Regions from separate parts of the Homo sapiens genome. Here region 2 is reported to be linked to region 1. The links are microRNA targets in miRTarBase. Many come from high-throughput screens and were not tested one by one. Region 1 holds a microRNA gene; the other region holds the end of a gene's coding sequence.
What was found. The annotated mature microRNA hsa-miR-1258 reads AGUUAGGAUUAGGUCGUGGAA and lies in region 1 at 2,010-2,030, opposite strand. An mRNA with a match to its seed (bases 2 to 7 or 8) in the 3' UTR can be bound and repressed. Matches are read on the target gene's strand: a 7mer-m8 pairs with bases 2 to 8, a 7mer-A1 pairs with bases 2 to 7 and ends in A, and an 8mer does both.

Region 1 (3,479 bases):
AGAAGTTAGCTAATTGCTCAATTTTTAAAATATAAATTGTTGCTATGAAAAATCAAGCAATGATATCTTCAAATTCAGCTTGGAAAAAAAGTCTAAGGGCAGGGGAGGCGGGGTGGCCAGTCCAGGGACTTAAGATCCTTGTCTTTTTCATGGTGCCCAACTCCACATAGCATTAGTCTGTACAGGCATTTCACCTTTCAGAATTGTTTTGAAAGATTTTTTTTTCTCTGAATCAGGTCACTTGCCTGAGAAAAAGAATGCTGAGAGCACCTGATATGCTTTGATCGATCCTCATTTAATAGTTACACTTTTTAAAGTTATCTTCCAGCTGCTGACAGGTCTCACTAATTGGCCATATTTGGGTGACAGGTACTAATGACAATTCCCTCTCTGATTTGACTATAGAGGAGACACCTCCGTTTGGTTTCCTTTGTACCTCAGTTGAAGAAAAATACATTAAATTCATTGTTTTCTTTTTGCTCTGTGAATCTGTATATTGTTAAAATGCTGTAAAATATCAACATTTTTTTCAATATAGATGATACTTAGTGGTTATTAAACTTCTATAAAGAGATCATTACTTATGTAATGTAAAATAATATACTGCAAACAAAGCACATAAGAAACTATGCTGCAAAACATTGTATCACCAAGATGATTCCAACATGGACAGTAATTTTTCCTTTGTTAGGAGAATTCACCTTCCCCAAAGCATTTTACTACAAATGCATCCAAGAGAGGTCAAGGAGATCTACAAGAATAGCTATCTGATTTGTGGTTTTTATCCCAAGCTTCCTCAAATCACTTTTGGAAATAGGTAAGAGTGTAAATTATAAATCCACAAATATTTAATTTATGGGAATATAGAATCTGAAAAACAACCAACACTTTGATCAAATAAGCATCTTTTTCATCTTAAAAACCTCAAGTAACAGAACTTGCAATGCTGTATTTTGCATTCTAAAGGCATTTATCTGTTACAGGGAAGGGGCAGCACATACTCAACGCACACATGGCATCAAAATAAGATTAAAGGACTCTGAAAACCAGTGAAATTTGGCCTTGGAACATTTAAGGGAGTTCTTTCAAGCCAAAGCCTTTAACTTACCTAAGATGTAGCTTATTGACTTTATGAAAAGCCCTCTTTTTAATTAGATAAATGCATTTCCTACCGTTTCATGAATTGTGTGGACGCTGCCAGTTTCCACGCTTTAGGCTAGGCCCTATAACAGAAATGTTTTGTTCCTTCTATAGGAACATCTTTTGCTACTACATCTTGACAAAGTTTGCATTCCCCTTGGTGTGATATTCCTCAGCAAAGCAAAACCAAAAGGAAATGCAAACCTCATCTCTGTATGAAAATGAAAGAAGACGTTTCCCAACCCAAGAACTTTTGAGAGCATTCCAAAACTGCGTTATTTTGTATTCATGGGCGTGGGGAGAGGGGGGATACTTCTTGGCAATTTATTTCCCCTGAAGAACAGCACTCCCTATCCAGGTTCACCATAAAAACTGTGTGTCCTCCAGAGTCTAGGGAAGCATCGTCCTGCCAGCTCTCCCTTCTCCCCACAGGCCCCCGCACATAACAGTGGCGAAACAGATGGTCCTCCCCCTCCCCTTCTCCTCGTCCCTTCCGCAGTCCCACAGTGTCCTCCCACCCTTCCCTGACACCTTCACCAGCGCTTAGTGGCCGAGGCCGCCCGTCAGGGCTCCCAACAAGTGCAAACTTCGGGGACCTTCTCTCTGCTCCTCTGCCCCCATCTCATCTGGGTTCTGCTGCAGAACTCTCCCACGACCCCAAGCTTCGACCGCTACCCTCCTCACACACCTCGGTCCCCTAACTACCCATTTCCCGGTCATTGAGAGAAAGACAAACCCCAAACTTCCAGCCCAGGTGACGAGGCGCTGCGGCTAAACATAGCGGGGCACTCTCCTCGTCCTTTCCCCTCTCCATCCGTCCTTGGGAATTGGAGCCTACCCTGGGGAACAGAGGAGTATGCTCCTGTGGCTTCCACGACCTAATCCTAACTCCAGGGACTCGCAGGAGTTAGGATTAGGTCGTGGAAGCCACAGGCGCCTGGGCGCCCTCCTCTACAAGTGGGACCTTGAGACAAAGTGCAAACTCTACCGGGAGGGGGGCTCCTGGCCATTCCCTCGGGCGGCGCGCCCAGGTGCAGGCTCGCTCTGCGGAGGAGGGCGGGGGCCGGGCAAGCAGAGGGCGCCCAGTCCGGGGGCGCCGGTCTGGGCTGGGCGCCCAGAGCTTACCTCGGCGCGCGGGCCGCGGGCGCGTGGGGCAGTGGCTCCTCCAGCCGGGAAGCTGTTGCTCACGCTCCGGTGGTTGCTGCGGTCCCGCCAGGGCTGCACCGGGGCTTCGCGCAGACGTTCTCCCGCGATCTGCTGCAGCCCAGGCGGTGGCGGTGGCGGTAGCAGCGGCGGCGGTGGAGGTGGCGCGGGCGACAGCTCGGCCCGGCGCGGCCCCTGAACTGTCCAACTCTTGCCCGCGCCGGGCTTAAGCGCCCGGCCGCTGCCCCCGCGCTGAGCGCCTGCGCACCGGGCCTCGCCCAGGTGAGGGGCGTGTGCCCGGAGCCCGCTGGGCGCGCCCGGCCCGGCCCGGCCCCGCCGCACGCCCGCCCCCCTGGCCTGGCCGAGGACCCCGGGGTTTGGACGTGCCAACGCCACTCTCGCGCGCCGAAGCTGTGACGGTTTACTAAGCAGAGACTTGCGAGGCACACAGAGAGGGAATGAGGCGGAACCGTTCGGGGGCTCGTTGACACTGCAGAGCCTCCCGCAGCATCGCTGCCTTAAATCCCGCCTTTCCAGGCGTGCGCGCACAGCGAGCCAGAGGAGGCTCCGTCCCGACCTGGGGTCCCCCGCGGTCCTCAGCCCGGGGGCTCGGGTCCCCGAAGAGATCCTTGGCAATGGCAGAGGTCCCAAAGCCTAGATGCCAAGCCCCGCGATGGGGCGGATGCTTCCAATATTAGTCAACCCAGAGTGAAACTCTCTTCTTGGAGATCGTCAGACCAACTATTTGTTTTTCCTCTTTGACCACCCCTGGGCTAGCAGAGCACAGCTAGCAGCTTCGGCATATTTGGCGGAGCCGGGAAGGCCCGGAGCGCAAGAAGGCATCGCAGCCTCGCAGCAGATCTGAAAGGGTTGTGGGCGGGGGGCTCATTTTCGCCGGATTTCTTTTCCGTGTTTAAGTTTTCAAAACTAAAACCTGTCATCGGTTACCCTGATGTAGAGGGCATCTTCTGAAAATTAGTGCAAACATGGCCAAGGTGCTTGGTTCTGAAAGGGAAAGCACTTAGAACACTTAAGAAAGGGAAAATAATTTTAAAAGAGCAGTTTTCTGAGATTACTTCTTTGGGGAGAAGTTCAATAGTCATAAATGACAAGAGAGTTGTGTTATATAGCAGGGATTTTTTTTTAACCAGATGATCTTAAAATATTTTTCTTTGGTTCTTGTCTCAGATGATTGA
Region 2 (3,000 bases), not on the chromosome of region 1:
GCTTTGGATGCTACACATCAGCAGTTGACACCTTCCCAGGAGCTGGATGATCTGATAGATTCTCAGAAGAACTTAGAGACTTCATCAGCCTTCCAGTCCTCATCTCAGAAATTGACTAGCCAGAAGGAACAGAAAAACTTAGAGTCTTCAACAGGCTTTCAGATTCCATCTCAGGAGTTAGCTAGCCAGATAGATCCTCAGAAAGACATAGAGCCTAGAACAACGTATCAGATTGAGAACTTTGCACAAGCGTTTGGTTCTCAGTTTAAGTCGGGCAGCAGGGTGCCAATGACCTTTATCACTAACTCTAATGGAGAAGTGGACCATAGAGTAAGGACTTCAGTGTCAGATTTCTCAGGGTATACAAATATGATGTCTGATGTAAGTGAGCCATGTAGTACAAGAGTAAAGACACCCACCAGCCAGAGTTACAGGTAAGGTCCCAAAAGTGGCCAGGCTGGAGGTCTTCTAATGTAATTTTGTTTTATTTTGAGAACACTGCCATTGGAATGTTTCTACACGATCCTATTAAGAATAATGTGATGCCCTTTCAATGCAACTTTTCATATTTAGTTTATTTTGTTAGCGTGATTTTAGCTCTGTTTGTATTATGATTTTTAATCAAAATCAATAGATTAAAAATAGTTTGACATTCAAAGTGACAATGTTTAGCAATCAAATTTACATGTATAGATCGTCAGGGAATAGCCCAAATGTTTTAAACGCAAAAAAAAAGACAAAAAAAAACCAAAAAAAAAAAACCTACAAAAAAAACTTTGTTGCTAGGATTAAGGTTATTCTAATTGCTTTACTCTCAGGAAAGTGTAATAACGCATGGGAATTCTGTACGTTATCACTGTAATGGAATATCCAATTTACAGATAGTATGATATACATTTCATCATTTAAGTAAGGGATCGAAAACATTTCAAATTGCTCTATCTGGGCTGATAGACATTTCGTCATTTAAGTAAGGGATCGAAGACATTTCAAATTGCTATCTCCATCTGGGCTGATCCAAAATTCTGAGATTGTTGGCTACCTATATTTTGTTGCAGCTTTTAAATGTACTCTGAACTTCCAAACCACATTCATTCCAGCCTGGTAGAACAAATATTCTTGGATCTTTGATCAAAGCCTGGAATGATAGCTTTAATAAAAGAAGGAAAAAAAAAAAGCACCCTCTCTTGATCTCAACTGTAACAAGGCTGTAATTCCATCAAGCGATTCTACTGACATCTAGTACAGTGTTGAAGCCCAAGTGGTTGGCTGGTTCCAGTATTAGAACTCAAGTTGAAATTATATGATTAACTGAAATTTGGGGCATGCATTATTTATTATACATGGCCTACAACGGTTCTGTCTGCGCTGTTACGTATTACCTACACTTCTGGGTTTTTTTGTTCTTGTTCTCAGCCTCTCTTTAAGAGTTCTTGGGCCTTCCTTTTCCCTCTTTCTATTTTAACAGTTTTAATTTTAGAACCATTTACATTCCAGTAGGTAATTCACTATGCGCTTTATATGCCTTAGGGCATCCAAATAAAAAACAATAGGGTAAACATCCCCAAAACCCACCTTTAAAAAAAAAAAAACCCATACAGATTTCCATATGTAATAAAACCCCGTGTTCTTGGATAGATATTAATAAGGTTGTAATTCCAACTGGTGACATAACTCCTGTGAGGGATAAGAATGTGTCTGCTTATAGTAATAACATCAGAACCTCTTTGTGAAATTGCGGCCTTTAATGTACATTTTAATGAAAGGGTGCATTAGTATTGTACAGGGGTCTTGTAAAGTCATCAAAACTTGCTATGAACTCTAATTGCCATTTGAAGCTACTGATTGGCAGTGGCTCTACTCTAAAACTGCTTTTTAGCAATTGTATTTTTTTCCTGATTATATTTTTTAATGTACTTTGATGTTTATGCTGATGAGTTTTTTATGTACTTTTGGTGATGTTTCAGTCTTATGTACTCTTCTGACGTCAGAAAAGTACCACTGGTTGTTTGCAGTCTTATTGTGTAATCAGCCTACCGCAGGCTTCCATGTATAATAAAGTAATTAATATTGTGCAAGTGTAAAACACTTCTGTTATAAAAGCAGTGTTTGGAAAATAAGAAATATTAAAAATGGTTACAAAGTATTAGTTAATTTCCTTTTCCCACTTTCCTCCCTTTAGCTTTAGCAGCTAAAGGGTCACCAACTTGTCATTGCAAGATTCTTAGAAAATGTACTTAATCTTAAATACGCTGAGTACTAAAAAGTGTTTATTTCTTATTTCAGTAAGTGCGGTAAGTTCTATTGAGTACAGAGTACAAGCTGTAATCAAAGGATGGAGAGGACCTTTACCACTGTATCTCTTAAGCTGTATGATTTTTCTCCAGTTTGTTTTATACAGGTTTTGAATTTCTTTAACTTTTATTGTGTGTACTGAATACTGCATATGTATTATTCTGATTGTTTGCTCTAGTTTACTACCAATAAAAGTCCTGTTAATCACAAGATTGAAGAAAGGAGATATTACTTAATATCCAGTAACGTTTTTCAGAATTTTCTATTAACATTTTCTAAAATATTCACATCCGTGGTATAACCTGCAGTTTAGAGGCTTGTATTTTAATTGTATTTTTTTAACTTAGGTATTTTGTGTTTCTAGGTTTATTTTAGTTGAAAATGGACTCAAGGCCGGGAGTGGTGGCTCACGCCTGTAATCCTAGCACTTCGGGAGGCCAAGGCGGGTGGATTGCCTGAGCTCAGGAGCTCGAGACCAGTCTGGGTAACACAGTGAAACCCCGTCTCTACTAAAATACAAAAAATCAGCTGGGTGGGGCGGCGTGTGCCTGTAGTCCCAGCTACTCAGGAGGCTGAGGCAGGATAATTGCTTGAACCCAGAAGGTGGGGAGGTTGCAGTGAGCCAAGATTGTGCCACTGCACTCCAGCCTGGGCGACAGAGCAAGACTCCGTTTCAAAAAAAAAAAAAAGGATTCAAATTTATAT

Region 2: the mRNA of ZNF281 is a reported target of hsa-miR-1258. The part of its 3' UTR that is shown has no 7-base or 8-base seed match.

The regions. Positions count from the first base shown.
Region 1 is chr2:179,858,836-179,862,314 of GRCh38, forward strand. It overlaps MIR1258 (microRNA 1258), which reads right to left and starts at 2,073; the gene lies at 2,001-2,073. It overlaps ZNF385B (zinc finger protein 385B), which reads right to left and starts at 2,777. Exons shown (of 10, transcript NM_152520.6): 1 at 2,266-2,777.
Region 2 is chr1:200,404,456-200,407,455 of GRCh38, reverse strand. ZNF281 (zinc finger protein 281) reads left to right here. Exons shown (of 2, transcript NM_001281293.2): 2 at 1-2,505. The coding sequence ends at 438. Among named protein-coding and RNA genes, the nearest start is that of ZNF281, 4.1 kb to the left of the region's middle.